Linked DNA regions of Homo sapiens: region 1 is linked to region 2. A link means that fine-mapping ties the variant in region 2 to the expression of a gene that starts in the linked region. Tissue or cell type: tibial nerve. Region 2 holds a variant in brackets; the other region holds the start of a gene. All regions are shown on one strand. Distances are from middle to middle.

Region 1 (8,100 bases), 39 kb before region 2:
CTCACTGATTTCGAACCCCAGGTTGATTATTAAGTGACAGCATCTCCTGTAGTCCAGGAGGCCCAAAGAATGTTCGTAGAGGGTCTTGGCTTAGGGTTTCTTATTAACAGAGTGAACAGGAACCAAACACCAAGTGGAAATGGAGGGTGATGGGCTGTGGTGGGTGGGTCCAGTCTAATTGTTCTTCATCGTCTCCTGGATCCAGTCCACATATTTGCAGACTTTCGTGTAGACACCAGGCTTTCGGGTGATCGCACACGGATCCTGGCCCCAGGAGATAATGCCTTGAAGAGACTGGTTACAGACCAGAGGGCCCCCGGAGTCACCCTGGGCACGGGGAGAGAGAATGTCGGTCAGAGAAAGCGTTGAGCATGGTGTTAGCCAGGGAGGAGGTGGGGACGGTGCTTAGGAGTGGGGCCGAGACAGGATGGGTAGGCACTGGGAAAGGTGATAGGTTTAGCGATAAAGCTGGGATTATGGGTGGGATAAAGGATGGGGTTAGGCTCAAAAACGAGTTTGGGGATGGTTGGAGCTGGAAATGGTGTGGAAACGGGGATGGAGCTGAAGTTTGTGCTGAGGTCAGAAACGGGAACAGGGGAAGAGATGGATTGGGAGTTGCAGGGGTCGGCGGGTTGAGGTTGGGGATGAAATTGTGGATGTCGGTAAAGATGTCATTGAAGCTGGGGATGGGGATGGGGCTGTGGTTGGAGACCACACTGACCTGGCAGGAGTCCTTGCCCCCTTCCTGCACGCTGGCACACACCATGGTGTCTGTGATGTTGCCGGGGTAGGCGTTCTCACACTTCTGGTGCTCAATGATGGTGATGTTGGCGCATCGCAAGGTGTGAGGCAGGCGTACTGTGGAAACAGCGTGAGGGGCTGTGGGAATGAGCCCCCTGCCACCTCCCCTAATGCAGTGCTTGCTGTGATCCCGCCCCTGGGGGAATCCCTGTCCTTAGACGCAGCCAACTCACCTCTCTTCTTGTAACAATAGCAACAGCAATGCTATCCAGCTTTTTTTTTTTTTTTTTCGAGACAGAGTCTTGCTCTGTTGCCCAGGCTGGAGTGCAGTGGCGTGATCTTGGCTCACTGCAACCTCCGTCTCCCAAGTTTAAGCGATTCTCCTGCCTCAACCTCCCGAGTAGCTGGGATTACAGGCGCACACAACCACGCCCAACTAATTTTCACATTTTTAGTAGAGATGGGATTTCACCACGTTGGCCAGGCTGGTATCAAAGTCCTGACCTCAGGTGATCTTCCCACCTCGGCCTCCCAAAGTGCTGGGATTACAGGCGTGAGCCACGGTGCCCAGCCTGCTATCCAATAAATGATTTATGTCAGTTGCTTGATATACATTATCTCTAATCCAATCCTGACAGGTGGGTATAATCATTCTCATTTTATAGAGAAGAAAATCAAGATTCAGAGAGGTGAAGCTGCTTGCCTAAGGTCTTACAACCAGGAGGTTATGGATGTATGATTGCATATCCCGTCCGTCTGACTCCAAGGCCCCAACTTTTGTCCCCACCCCCCTATCCTGACGTTTTCCACACATCCTCTCAACTTATCCCACATCGTCACTGTGAACCGCATCTCTGATGCCCTGAACCCTTCCACAATCCTGACCACTCCCTCCTCACCACCCCCTGCCAGGTTCCCCTCTGGTGCTCCTACACTGGGGGCTGGACGTGCTGCCCCAGCCGGAAATGAGGCAGCTGGTGCCAGCAGTGACACAGCGTGAGGAGAGGGTGAGGGGTCGCACAGCCCAGGTGATGGAGACTGGCGATGCCATCTTCACCAGCATGATGTCATTGCGGTGGTCTTTGTTGGGGAGGCTGTTGTTGAAGCCGGGGTGGGGGAAGGACTCAGTGGCTGTCCGGGTCTGCTCACAGCCCTCCTCCTTCTGGAGGTTGTGCTGCCCCAGGTGAACTATGTAGCGGCTGAGGTGGGAGAGACAGTAGTTGGAGGAGGAAAGGTCGGGGGAGACATGGGTGGGAGAGGTGAGTGACACCTTTGAGGATGAAGAAACATCGCTCTGCTTCCAACCTCTTCCACGTCTCCCACCGAAGCCCCCTTCCCAGCCATAGCCCCATCCCAACCCCATTCATCCCCCCACCTTCAATACCAACTCGAGCCCATCAACCTTGCTGACACTACCCATCCCCATCTCTAATCCCCTTACCAGCACCCCTATCCCTGAGCTTCTCTCCATCCATCTCCCCATTCCCAGCCCCCCACCCCGGCACCGCCCCAGCCCCCGCACCCACGGCTTGAGGCAGTGGGCTGCTGTCAGGAGCCATCTGGGGGCGATGAGCGTCGCCCCACAGAGTAGCCGCGTCTTCTCGAACAGGGCTGCCTGCCAGGGCTGGGAGTGAGGCTTGCACTCGAACCCCTTGATGATCCTGGTCTCTCCCCCTACAAGCCCTGGAGGGGGTGAGAGCAAAAGAAGGGGCTCAGGAAGGAGAGGTGGTAGACCAGGAGGACTCCCAGAAATGGGGGTGGGGAGGAGAGAAAGAGAGTGGGTGGTCTGGGCCCTGGTCTGGTGTCCCTCTGGGTTGCCCTGGATGCTGGGGTCGGGTATTAAAGGATGAAAATACTTCCATAAGGTCAAATGCAGTGGCTCATGCCTGTAATCCCAGCACTTTGAGAGGCTAAGGTGGGAGGATTACTTGAGCCCAGGAGTTCTAGATCAGCCTAGGCAAACATAGTGAGACCTCCTCCCCCATCTCTACAAACAATTAAACAATTAGCCTGGCTTGGTGGCAGGTGCCTGTGGTCCCAGCTACCGGGGAAGCTGAGATGGCTTAAGGATCACTTAAGCCCGGGAAGTCAAGACTGCAGTGAGCCGTGTTGGCACCACGGCACTCCAGCCTGGACAATAGAGCAAGACTTTGTCTCTGGGAAAAAAAAAAAAGGAAATACTTCCATACTGGTTGGTCAGTAGCCCCTGTCCTGGGCGCTTTGAGTGACTGCTCCCCCAACTCCAGCTTCCTCAGCCCCTCCACGGGACCCTTTACGACCCCCTTGACCTCTCCTCCTTTGGCATTTAAAGGGATTATCTAGAAGGGCATCCAGGCCCTCATGACCACTGCTCCAGTTCAGGTGCCTTATGGGTTGTTCTGTAATTTGGAATCAGCCCTGTCACTGTCCAGACACAGAGGGTTAGGGGATCCCAGAGATTCAAGAGGGAGGATCCTGCCCTGCCCCCATCCCCTGCGTACCTGTTGCCAGAGCAAGCAGGATTAACTGCAGAATCCTCATGGCCTGGAGGGGGGAGGAGCGGGCCCCAGGTTCCTCTGGGAACAAGGAGGGACATGGGGCCGCATCACTTTACGGGGAAATCGGGAGGGGGGGGCTGGCTCATGCCCTCTCCTCTCTCCCTCACCTGCTCCCGCTCCCCACTTGGGAGAAACAAGGTTGGGGAAATCCCCTGTTTCTCACAGCACTCAGATCTCCAAACACTTAAAATATATCTTAGGTGTCTAGGGTGGCCTTGGAGAGGGCCTGGTCACAGCTAGAAGCTTCCGAGATACCAAGAACCATGTGGAAGTCGTTGGGAGGGGCTTTGAGCTGTCAAGCCATGGTTCGGCCCTGTTCAAGTCAGCCATGGGACCTCCCCGGCACATGTCAGAGGATGTTTTCCTTCTTGCCTTGAGAGCTGGCCAGGCCCCAGCAGCTTGGGGTGGAAGGACAAGGGGAACCAGACACCGTTCCGTAGCCACCCCTTTTTCATTGTCTTCGCAGCAGAGCGATATGGAGCCTTTGAGGTCTGCTGGAGGGGAGTAGGGGGCTCAGCCCCAGACAATGTCTGGGACCCCCATCACCCGGCTTGCTGAAGCCCTGTCCGCCAAACCCCTGCCCTTTTGAAGGACAGCCAAGCAAAGCTGGGCGGGGCTGGTCGAGGGGAGGGCCAGTGCCCTCCGCTGCCCTGGCCAGCGGGGGTGGGAGCAGAGGGCCAGCTCAGCAGCTGAAGCCATGGAGATTAGAGGTAACTGAGGCTGCGGACAGCCATCGGAGGTGAGAGGTGTAGAGAGAGGCCAGGAACCCCCACCCAAGCAGAGAAGGACAGAGCAGAGGGAGAAATGGGTGCCCGAGTGGGACAGGTGTCCTTGGGGAGGGCTGACACCTGGACGGGGAGGGGCAGCTTCCCTTTCCTCCTGGACTCACAGGCTCTGGGGCTGGGGCTCTGGGGGCCCAGTGGCGGCGGAGACGGCAGTGGCGGCAGCTACAGCAGGTAGGCTGGGTTGGAGCGCCAGGTGCCAGGCACCAGGCAGGCGGGCTGGCAGGGGGGCGGCCCTGGGCGGGCCCAGGATGACTGGCCTCCAAGCCCTGCCTTAATGCCCCGGGGCGGGGTGTGTGTGAGGGCCCTCCCCGGAGGCCTCTGAGGCACTGGCTGCCTGCCTGTGCCACCTCTCCAAGCCCCTCTTCTCCCTGTGTCTCAGCCTCCCTCTGTCTGTCTGTCTGTCTGCAGCCTTCCTTTCCCTGCCCTGAGTCTCTGAATCTGTGTCTCGTTCTATGTGTCATTCCCTGTCATTCAGTAATTCTGACTTTGTGTGATTTTTCTCTTTCTGTCCCTATGTGTCTGTCTGCCTTTCTCTGTCCTCGTCCCTGTCTCCATCTCCACTCTTCTCTCTCTGTCTGGCTCTGTGTGGCCCTTTCTCTAATTCCTTCTATCTTTGTGTCTCTCAGTCAGTCTCTCTGACTGCATCTCTGGCAATTTGTCTTGAAATCCCTCTTCTTCCATCTAATCTCCGTCTCTCTTTTTCCTCCCGTCCCAGCCACTCCCTCTCCACAGCCCCAGCCCAGGTGGGCCCCTGGCCTCCCCTAGGCCGCTCCCTTCTCCTTTGCAAGGAGAGGGGGGGTGTGCTGGGATGTCACACAGGTGGGGCTGCTGCCAGGCACAGGGGCAGGACCGGAGGGTGGGGGAGGCAGGTCAGGGCCTGTGGAAGCCGAGTCCAGGAAAGGGAACAGAGCCCTTGGCTGTGCTCCACCCCAGGGCTCCTCTGGGGCCTCGCTCCTCTGCTGACCCTTCCCCTGCCCGCTTCTCCCTGCCGCCCAGGCAGCCCGAGTCCAGCTGTTCACTTACTGGCTGCTGTGAGACCTCTGCCCGATGACTTCCAGTCCCGCAGCCACCTCAACCTCTGCATCTGCGGAACCCGAGCGCAGATTCCTGCTTCTCCCAGCTTGTTTGTTTTCAGTTAGGTCCCTTCCCTTGGCTTTCCTCCCCTCTCTCCCCTGACCAGGTGTGGAGCAAGGCAGGGGAGGGCCTAGGTTCTGACAGCAGCCAGCCCTGGCCTCAAACCTAGGTGCTTCCTCTTCCTACTACTATGACTACCCTTATGACGTGGGGACAAGGGACTCCACCCCTGCAAGGCTCAGTTTCTTCATCTGAGAGATGGGGGTGACAGACCTGCTTGCAGGGGAGGTTGGGATCAGGCTTCCAGGAGGGTCCACTTGGAAAGAGCAGACTGCGGGGGGGCTCAGCAAATGTGCCTCCGCTGGTATGATCACCCCTCACTCCCTCCCTCCTCCAGTTTCCCTTCAGTGCATTTGGGGAGATGGTCTCTCCTCACCTCTTGAGTCCCAGTGGAGACAGAATCCAAGGGGTGGGCAGGAGGATTAAAGACGTAGGCTGAGCTCTCCTGCTTTCCAAGCCTGCACTCCACCCTTCGTCTTATTAGAACAAAGCCACGTCCCACATTAAAGATACAATGTATGCTTCATTACAAGAAAGTAAACTGCAGTTGGCTAGTGGAAAGAATGCTACGTTTTATGGACATTGGATTAAATGGTCATAAATGTTGACTTTGCAGCTTTCATCTGGTATTTTGGAGCTAACAATTTTCTTTTTCTTTTTCGGGTCTTTTGTGGACTCTTGAAAAGCTTATAAGCTCTGGGCACTATTTCTATTATGCCAGATGAAGAAACATGTGTCTTATTTATATTGCTGGGTTTTTGTTTTTGAGACAAGGTCTCACTTTATTGCCCAGGCTGGAGTGCAGTGGCATGATCTCGGCTCTTTGCAGCCTCCACCTCCCCGGCTCGGGTGATCCTCCCACCTCAGCTTCCCAAGTAGCTGGGACTACAGGCACGCACCACCACACCCAGCTAATTTTTTGTGTTTTTGTAGTGACAAGATTTCACTGTGTTGCCAGGCTGATCTCGAAATCTGAGCTCAAGCCATCCTCCCACCTCGGCCTCCCAAAGTGCTGGGATTACAGGCGTGGGCCACTGCACCCGGCCTATATTATTAAAAGTAACTTTTTCTACTCCATTTCTGAGTAACTACTCAGGGAAGACCCTCATCCTATTTGAGCACTGGGTTTTTTGTTTGTTTGTTTTTGAGATGGAGTCTCGCTCTGTCGCCCAGGCTGGAGTGTAATGGTTCAATCTCGGCTCGCTGCAGCCTCTGCCTCACGGGTTCATGCTATTCTCCTGTCTCAGCCTCCTGAGTAGCTGGGATTACAGGCATGCGCCACCATGCCTGGCTAATTTTTGCATTTTTAGTAGAGTTGGGGTTTCACTATGTTGACCAGGCTGGTCCCGAGTTCCTGACCTCAGGTGATCCACCTGCCTCAGCTTCCCAAAGTGATGGGATTACAGGTGTGAGCCACTGTGCCTGGCCTTATTTGAGCTCTGTTTCTACTCCTATGAGATAGGGAAACTGCTGAGTCCTTCTTCCAGTCTCAACCAGCATGAGGACTTCAAATGGACAGACATGGCCCCTCCTTCATTTATATTTATTCCAGACTATTGCACACTTCTCTCACCCCGCTCGTGGGTCTTAGAAGGGCTGGCAGGAGTTAAAGTTCCAAGAAGTTCCCAGGCCAACAAGAGTGGAGCTAGGGGAAGTGATGGAGGAGATATTGGTGCTCTGAGGGCCAGAGGGGTACCCAAGTTAAGGGGTGGGGGTGGAGGTGGAGGAAACAGGTCAGTTGTTCCTCATGATCATCCGGATCCAGTCCACATACTTGCAAATATAGGTGTAGACTCCAGGGATGCCATCTTGTCCACAGGGCCCCACAGACCCCCAGGACACCAGACCTTGAAGGACTCCCCCACACACCAGGGGGCCCCCAGAATCACCCTGGAAGGGAAGAGAAGTACTGTCTGAACAAGGGAGACATCTTATTTCTGTTTTCCTCCCCAACCCTTCAACCCAGTCCTGGGCCTTGGGGAGGGCTCCAAGTCTGGTCATTAGACAAAAGAGTATAATCACTTTCCCGGAGGACAATGGCAATGGCTAACCAAAAGAGAAGAACCACTGTCTCTAGGGGCCAATCCCAGGGAAGAAGGGTGGAACTCCATAAAGGACAGAGGTTCTCTCAAGGACAATGGCTGGGGCCCTGACCAATGAGGAGAGAGAGCACAGTCATTAATGACCAATCTCAGGGGAGGCTGTCAAGACAACATAAAGAGTCGAGCATTCTCTCAAGGACAATGGCTGGGGCCCTGACCAATGAGGAGAGAGAACACTATTATCAATGACCAATCCCAGGGGAGGAGGGTGGGACTCCATAAAGGATAGAGGTTCTCTCAAGGACAATGCCTGGGGTTCTGACCAATGAGGGGAGAGAGTGCCATCAAAAATGACCAATCCCAGGGAAGGTGGGCAGGACTCCATCAAAAGCACAGAGTTCTCTCAAGGACAATGGCTGGGGCCCTGACCAATGAGGGGAGAGACCGCCATCCTCAAATCTCTCTCAGTCTGGGACAGCACCAACTGGAGGATGGTATGGGAAAGACTTAGAGCCCCAGAAACAGCTGGTTCCCTGTCTGGGCTCCCAGTCCTCTCCGTCTGTTTTGCTGTCTCTCTCTGTAACCCCTGCCCCATCTTTCCTTCTCTGTTCCCTTCCTCCCTCTCTCTCCCTGCCCCTCCCCCTCCTCCATTCCCCGGTCCTCCCTTTTACTCCCTGTCTCTCTCCCTCCCTTATCCTGGGCCTCTCCTCCATTATTATTATTATTATTATTATTATTATTATTAATTATTTTGTTTTGAGACAGAGTCTGGCTCTGTCGCCCAGGCTGGAGTGCAGTGGCGTGATCTCAGCTCACTGCAACCTCCGCCTCCCGGGATCAAGCGATTCTCCTGCCTCAGCC
Region 2 (8,100 bases):
TTGATTTGTCCATCCGTCTACTCATCCATCTATCCATTCATCCATTTAGGTAGTCATCTAACCATCTATCCATCCATCCATCCATCCATCCATCCAACCATCCATCCACTCATCTGTCCCTCCATCCACTGGTCCATTTATTCATCCATCCATCCATCCATCCATCCATCCATCCATCCATCCATCCATCCAATCCAACCATCCATCCATCCATCTATCCATATATCCATCCATGCATCCATCCAATCATCTTTCCACCCATCTCTCTATCCTTTCACTGCATATATACTGGTTGCCTCCATGGCTTTAAATACCAGCTATAGGCTAATCATCTCCAGCCCTGAACTCTTCTTTAAGCTCAAAACTCAAACACTGTTGATTTGGATGCCTTACAGGCATCTTAAGCTTTGTATTCCCAACTTGATTCTTCTCAATCAAAACTGTTCGCTCCAGTATTTCCCACCTCAGTGCTCAGCCCCAAACCTGGGAGTCATCTTTGCTTCTCTTCTTTCCTTCATCACTCACAACCAGTTCCTATTGGTTTTATCTCCCAAATATCCAGTTATCTCCACACTTCTGCCACCATCTTGGTCCATGCCCCATCTTCTGTAGCCCAAATGACTACAACATTAACCTAAATCCTTCCACTTTTACATCCCTCCGATCCAGTCTTCTCAAAGTAGGCTGAGGACTCTTCAAACAAAGAAAGTCAGATGTTGTTCCCAGGCTCAACTTTCTTTAAAATAAAATCCAAAAAGCCTTCCCAAGGTGTGCAGGACTCTGTGCTGTCTGGCCCTTGCCAGCCTCTTTGACCCCATCTCCAACCTCTTTCTTCTGACTTCCTCTAGTCCAGCCTCATGGGCCTGTTCTTCAAACACACCAGGCATTTAAAGAAAAGAAGAATTTAAATCATCTTGGATGCCCCCATACTAGACATTTTATACTTGCTATTTCCTCTCTCTGCACAGTCCTTTCTCCAGACCTATGTTGTTTAATATGGTAGCCACTAGCTACATGTGGCTATTTAAATTTAAACTAATTAAAATGAAGTAAAACTAAATTAAAAATTCAGTTCTTAAGTCACACCAGCCATATTTCAAATGTTCAATAGCCTGAAGGGGCTAGTGGATAATTGGACAGCACAGATATAGGATATTTCATATATACATATATGGAATATTCTACTGGATGACCCTCAGAATTTAGAGGTTGTATGTCTGGGTCCTTCTTAATTCTGAGAGGTCAGCTCAAATGTCTCCTCTTCAGAAAGGCCTTCCCTGACCACCTGGTCTAATGTTGACTCTCCTGGTCCCGACTCCTCCCCCATTACATTCTTCCAGTTGGTCTTCATCAGAACAATGATTGCTATTCATTTCTCTTCACATTTGTATGTATTCGTTTTTAAAAATCTCTCCACTTTGACTGTAAGCTCCATTGACAACAGGCACCTTAACTGCTTTATTCAGTACCATATTCCCAGGACCTAACACAGCGCCTGGCACACAATGGGGGCTCAATAAATAAATGCTGTGTGTGCCAGGCACTGTGTCTGGCATTGAAAGCACAGCAGGGGTCCGTGGGACAGGGAGAATCCAATCCTGAACATGCATGCCATTTTGTGACTGTGTGACCTTATGCAAATCACCAGCCTCAGTTTCCCCAGCTGTCAAGTAGAAAAAGTAATAGTTCATCTCTCATTGCGCAGTTGAAGAATTCAAGATGATCCTGCATTTCAAACCGTGCAGCACAGCAGGTGGCATGGAGAGCACTCAGTCAGTGGGAAATGTTATTATTAATTATTAGCTACAACAGGAGGTCCCTCTGCCTCCCTAGCTAGTTTCCCCAACTACAGGGCAAGCAGTTGGATTAGCTCAGTGGTTTGCAGTTAGGGACAGAAGTTGTCGGTGAGCACAGGATCATTTTAGATGGTAGAGAGATGAGATTTAAGTAACGTTAAATCGCACACTCAGACGCTGAACCAGCATCCAGTTCTCTTTTAAACCTGATTTTGTCAAGGATAAAGTCTCAGGATGGTGCTAATATGGTTTTAACACCTCCCTAATCCTCACTGAGCTCACTTTTCAAAGCCAGGAGGACACAGAAGCCTCATCAGGCCACCTAACATTTATTACACTGAACCATCTGCAAAAGTTGTTTTAGGAAGGTCAAAAAGGGTCAAGTATCAGCAATTTCAGGTGGTCCAACCCAATAAACATATTATTTTCTTTTCATTGTGCAGGATTTATTTCCTTCCTTACCTTCTATTTATGACAAAGAATTCTATTCTCTATTCAGGACAGTAATATAAAGTTGAACATGCTTTTGTTTGAGTGAAAAAAGAAGAAAAAAAGCTAACTTTAAGCAAATGATTAGGTCAAAAGTTATAAAAATGGTTTTCAGAGCCTCAAGTCCAGGATATGGACAGGGAAAACAACCTTGATTAGGATTCTGACTCAGGCATCGCCGGTGTCATTGGAGCAGGAGCCTTCTGTCTTTGAGTCCTAGGTTTCTCTGCCATGAAATTGGAGTAATTACAATGCACCTACCTCGCCAGGTTGTTGAGGACTCCACAAGGCGTAGCGTGTGGGTCTCCTAGCCTAGGGTGTGGCACTCAGGAGTGGCACGGGCATGAATCCAGGGAGTGTCGCCAGAGGAGAAAAGCCACCCCACCTTCAGGCCAAGGATGGTGCCAGGTGCCAGGCACCCACAGATCCCTCCTTTTTCAGGTCTTGGCTCAAGGGTCAAGCCCTTTGGGAAGGCCTCTGGTCGGGAAGCCGCCATTACATCTCTAGGCCCCTGGCTTGGCTCCTTGAAGTCTTCACCTCATGTCAAGATAATTATTAACTAATTATTTGGATAATTGTTTGAATAACATCTGCGTCTGTCCCCGCTAGACTCCAGGTGCTGAGAGCAGGGACTGTGTCTCTGCTTGTACAGCACCCAGCACAGTGGCCGGTGTTTAATAGCTGTTTGTTGAATGAATAAATGATTCATGAACGGGGTTTCCAGAGAACCTGCCTACAACGGCAGGGAAAGATGGGAAAGATCCATAAGGATCTTAAGGACTACCAATTTGGGGTGAGGTCACATAGGTTTGGGGTCAACCCAAGGATTAAAATAACAATCTAGAAGGTTCTGGAAGGGGCTGAGTATGAAGACAGAATACTAGAGGCCGGGCTCGGTGGCTCATGCCTGTAATCCTGGCACTTTGGGAGGCTGACGCGGGCTACTTGAAGTTAGAAGTTCGAGACCAGCCTAACCAACATGGCGAAACCCCGTCTCTGCTGAAAATACAAAAATTAGTTGGGCGTGGTGGCGGGCGCCTGTAATCCCAGCTACTCGGGAGGCTGAGGCAGGAGAATCGCTTCAACCCGGGAGGCGGAGGTTTCAGTAAGCCAAGATCGTGCCACTGCCTTCCAGCCTGGGAGACAGAGCAAGGTTCCATCTCAAAAAAAAAAAAAAAAAAAAAAAGGAATACTACTAATAAAGTAATAACGGCTAAGTGGCTAACTTTCAAGTCCCTTCTACCTGCGACATACTGAAGGCTCGACGCATTACCTCGTTTCAATATTCACAGTGACCTTCTCTGGTAAGCACTTATAGATTAAGCCCATTTTCCAGATGAAAACAATTTAGGCACAAAGCAGCTGCTAGGCTACTGGCTCAAAGCGGCAGCGTCAGGACGCGAACCCATGTCTTTCAGCTTTCCAGAGAGGACAGGAAGCCTTGAACGCGGGAGGGGCTGCTGCGAGGGTATTTTGGGAGGTGAAGGGTCTGGGGTCGGAGGGCCAACCTCAGCCGGGAAACCAGGTCACCCAGGGACAAGCAGGAAGAGCTCTGAGCTGTCCCCACTGGACCCGGCCCCGAGTGGGCGGGGGGCGGAGCTCGCGGCTCCCACGCCCCCTCCCCCTCCGGCCTGACCCCTCCTACCATTGTCCCGAATGGCCGCCGCGCCTCCACCCCCGCGCATTCTTACCTCCTGACAAGGCCAAGGTCAGGGAGGCGATCACTAGGGCCAGGGGCCACATGGCTCCGGGATCGGGAGGGGAGGGCAGGGCGGGCGGGGCCTGAGGAGAAGGTGAAGGGGGTGTTGAGGGCGTGCCCGGAACCTCCGCGTCTGAAACCTCTCTGCTCCTGAATGTCTCCTCGCCTCATTCACTCTTGACAGCCCTGACCCTGGAATCTGCCCCCCGCCTCCAATTCCATCCTTGGTGGGGGTGCAGTGGCGAGGTGGGAGGAACAGTGTGCAACCTCCTGGGGCTCCGGCGTGCAGCCCCTCACCCCAGGAAGCCGTCCCTCCTCCCCTGCCCTCTGGCGAGCTGGGTGGTCGGTGCACTCTCGCCCTTTTCCTCCAGAGTCTGCCTTCCATTCTACCCCTCTGGGTCTGTCCACA[C/T]GCTTGGTATTAGCCCAAGTTCTTATCTGTCCGCGCCCTTCGCCTCTCTCCGTCTCTGCAGGTTTCTCTCTAGATCTGAGACTCTAGCTTCACTCTCCCTCTCCCTGACTCAGCTGCCCTTCTGCTTTCCCCATCCTTCCTATCCCCTCTTCTCTCCCCTCCCTGCCCTCCTCCGCTCCCCGCCCCCGCCCCAGGCAGACCCTACCTGAGTGAGGGGCCCACGAGGAGCGTCAGCCGCCAGCTGTCTAGAACTTCAGCCCCGAACCATGGCTTTTAACCCCTGAACTCCCTCCCCCAGCTCACTCAGCATTTCCTGGTCCCTGGCCTCCCCCTCTCCACCCCCAGTGGCTCAGCGGGATGTCTCCAGGCACCCCCGACCTGGGCTTGGCCCTCTGCTTGGGGCGGAGCTTCCAGGACGTGCTGGGACCTAGGTCTGACCCCGCCCAAGGCAGAGTTGAACCCACTGTGAACTTTCAGGCCTCAGGACCCAAAAAAGGGTAAGGGGAAAGCCCATTTCCTTCCCCCTACCCCGCTGAGTTCCATGCCCATCCCTAACTTCAACCCATTCTGCACCCAGTTTTCTAACCTCTTCTCCAACCCCATGCATAATTCTTAATAGGCAGTCAGCCCCCAGATGGCCGTGTTCTATCAGATTCCCACCTCCCTATCCATCCCTAACCATACCAAGTACTCCAGCCTGTTCCTCAACCCCAGTCCCATCTCCAACCTCATCTCAGGTTTAGCTCTCAACACATCCAGGTTCCAATTCCCAGTCTCATCTCAACCCTTTTTCTTTTGAAAGACACAAGGACACCCACAATTATCCCATCATCCTGCCTCCCTGCTCCCGCCAACCACCGGACACAAGAAGGAAATCATCAGCTGGGTGGATAGAAAATCAGCTCCCTCGGACTTGGATGGGGGCAGAGATGCGACCTGAGAAAGCAACATTTTCCAGAAATGGCCTTTTAGGAGCAGGGCCAGAGGGGGTGAGGGAGTCCACGGGGACCTAGGTGGAGAGGAAAAAGCAGGAGCCGGAAAGCTTTGAAGACGTGGATTGGGGGTGGGGGAGAGGAAGGAGGAAGGGGTGGTGTTTTGAGAATGAGTAGGTGTCTCCAGGAACTATGACTGGGTGGAGCCCTGAGTTAATCCTAGGGGGTGGAGGGGACAGGATTAGGGATTAAGGACTGAGGTGGGGTCAGAATTTGGAAGAAAGCCAGGGACGTGGACCAGATGAAGTTTGGAAAGAGTGAGAGAGTGGAGGTGTCACAATGAGGATAAAGAATAGAGATGGATGGGGCGAGGGCTCACATGGAAACTTGTACAGTCCTTATTGATGGAGTTCAGATTTGGATGTGGAGATCAAATCTAGTGTCAAAGGGTAACTTTTAAAACATGGTCTTACCATGACTCTCTGACATATATGAAATGAACATGTGTCAAAGATTGTATCTTGACTCATTAATAAATGGCAGAGCCAGTAAGATGTTACAAAGAGCCATATGCACAGAGACAACGAGGAATGCTGAAATGAATTTACAAATAGATGCAAAACTGGCTATTCCACACTGGGAGGAGGAGGGAAATCCATTGTACTTCCACCTGGCAAAATTCATGTAAACATTTATGGACAAGAATTATTTGCATTGCTCTCAGATACCTACAATTTAGAGTCATAAAGTGGCTCAAAGACAGGAAAGGGTACAGAGACCTCATAAAATCAGATAACCCATCTAACTTTGCATTGGCGACACCTCAGTGTCCAATGTTGGGTCCATTTCAAAGTATTTTGCTAAGAAGAAAAATATGGCTTAATATAGGAAATCAGTAGAGTCTATGGTTAAGGATGGGCCTGATGACAACATTAGGAATGCAATGAGTTTGGGGAGGTGAATGAAAATTGGATGAGGATGGGTATAGAGTTGGAGGTGGTAGTTGAGCTGGTTTTGGGATAGGATTAGATTGTAAGATGGGAGGTATCTAGGGATAAGTTGGTGTTGGGGTACTGTTGGGTTGGGGCTGAAGATGGAACCAAGATTGAGGTTTTGGATGGGGAAATGTTAAGATGTGGTTGAGCTGGGGTAGTGGGTTGACATGGGTGATGAGGACTGGCCATGAGGTTGAGTGTCTATGATGCAGTAGGTTTTGGTGGGGGTGAGCTGGGTCATACCCCACCTCTCAAGGTGAAAGAAAGGTCACTGTCTTTCTCCACCCTGGACTTCTCCCACCTCACAGGGCGGGGTCTGAGTTCACTTTTTGAGTGGAATTGTGTTCAGGTGGTGTGGCTGGAGGTAGGATGCCAGGTTAAGTGCGGCAACCAGCTTATGTGGGAAATCGGGGTACTTGTACCCTCCTGTGACCTGGGTCCATGCTTCCAGAGAAGCCTTTCTCACTTGGGAAAAGCTGGAGCCTGGAGTGAGGGTGGTTGGCCTTGTTATTTGCTGAGGGGTGAGTGCCAGGTCAAATTGATGTTAGGGGTTATGATTGGCCGAACGCGGGTTGGGTAGCTCTGGTTGAAGTGAGGTCATGGACCCACTGAGGGCTGGGCACCTTCCACCCCCTCACTTGATGAACAAGCCCACGGCTGAAAGTCACACACAAACTGGACCAAATCCAAGTGCGCTTCTGTCACAGGTGCAGGTCTTTCCTCCACCACAGAGAACCGGGCTGGAGAAAGAAGAAGAAAGGACCCGAAAAAGAGATGGTGTTCCTAGTGGTTCTGACCTCAGACTCTGGAGCTAGACTGCCTGAGTTCAGATGATGTGACTGCTCTGTGCCTCAGCATCCCCATTTGTAAAATGGCACAATCAATAGCACTTGCCTTATGGAGAAGGGTTAACTGGATTAATACCCAAAAATGCTTCGAAGAGAGTGTGGCATGGACCAAGGGCCACAATGCTCCTGTTAAATAAGTAAAGCTTAAGATGGAGGCATCTGACGGTTCCAGGAGGCCCCTCCCTATCTTGGCTTCAAAATGGGATTCTTTGTCAAGCAGGAACTGGAACTTCTGGTTGGAAGTGCTAGCTGGGATGAGAAAGTAGGCCCCACACCCAGGCCCAGAGGAGGGGCCCCAACGCAAACATGAAGGGAGGGGAAGACTGAGAGATACAAAGGGCTAAATACACAGAGACAGAAAGATGGGGCAGGTGGGAGAGGACAGAAAGAAAATTCAGAGGACAGAGGCACAGAGATAGAAAGAGAGAGATGCCCAGTGAGAAGCAGACTCTTGGTGAGAAAGAGGCACAGAGAGTTGAGAAACATGGATTCTTCTTTAGAGCTGGATCCGTGTTATTCAGGATGTGGCTCCAGTCATCATGCATCCCAGGCAGCAATAACACATCGCTTTCATCCATCAGAATAGCAAAAATTAGAAAGGTCGGTCTTGCCACCTACCTGCGTGCCCACATCCTCTGTCTCCTCTCCCATTTCTCTAGATGAACAGTCTGCACCTGCAGCTAAGATAGATGCCTCCACTGGTGCTGGTATCCTGTCCTCTCTTGCCTTCTGGAGGGCATTGCTCCAGCCAGCAGTTCTCTGTTCTCTTTCCTGCAACATGTTTTCCTTCTTCTCCAAGGAGCAGCCCCATTAGCATGCAAATATACTACAGTTTCTCCCATCTCTCGTTAAAATTTGAAAACCAACCAACAAAAATTTCTCCCCACTCTCATGTTCTCCTTCAGCTCCTGGCCCATTTTCTGCTCTGTACA

The links. PIP is the estimated chance that this variant, and not a neighbour inherited with it, causes the effect.
Region 1: it holds the start of KLK11, and the variant in region 2 is fine-mapped to the expression of KLK11 in tibial nerve (GTEx, PIP above 0.99).

The regions. Positions count from the first base shown.
Region 1 is chr19:51,022,371-51,030,470 of GRCh38, forward strand. KLK11 (kallikrein related peptidase 11) reads right to left here and starts at 4,246. Exons shown (of 6, transcript NM_001136032.3): 1 at 4,168-4,246; 2 at 3,222-3,296; 3 at 2,268-2,424; 4 at 1,675-1,940; 5 at 722-858; 6 at 1-327. The coding sequence starts at 3,261. The coding sequence ends at 175. KLK12 (kallikrein related peptidase 12) reads right to left here. Exons shown (of 6, transcript NM_001370125.1): 6 at 6,724-7,087. The coding sequence ends at 6,932. RefSeq lists enhancers at 3,325-3,883, 3,884-4,441, 5,001-5,557 and a silencer at 7,590-7,821.
Region 2 is chr19:51,061,040-51,069,139 of GRCh38, forward strand. KLK13 (kallikrein related peptidase 13) reads right to left here and starts at 4,053. Exons shown (of 5, transcript NM_015596.3): 1 at 3,977-4,053. The coding sequence starts at 4,028. The variant C/T (reference allele first, on the strand shown) is at 4,394.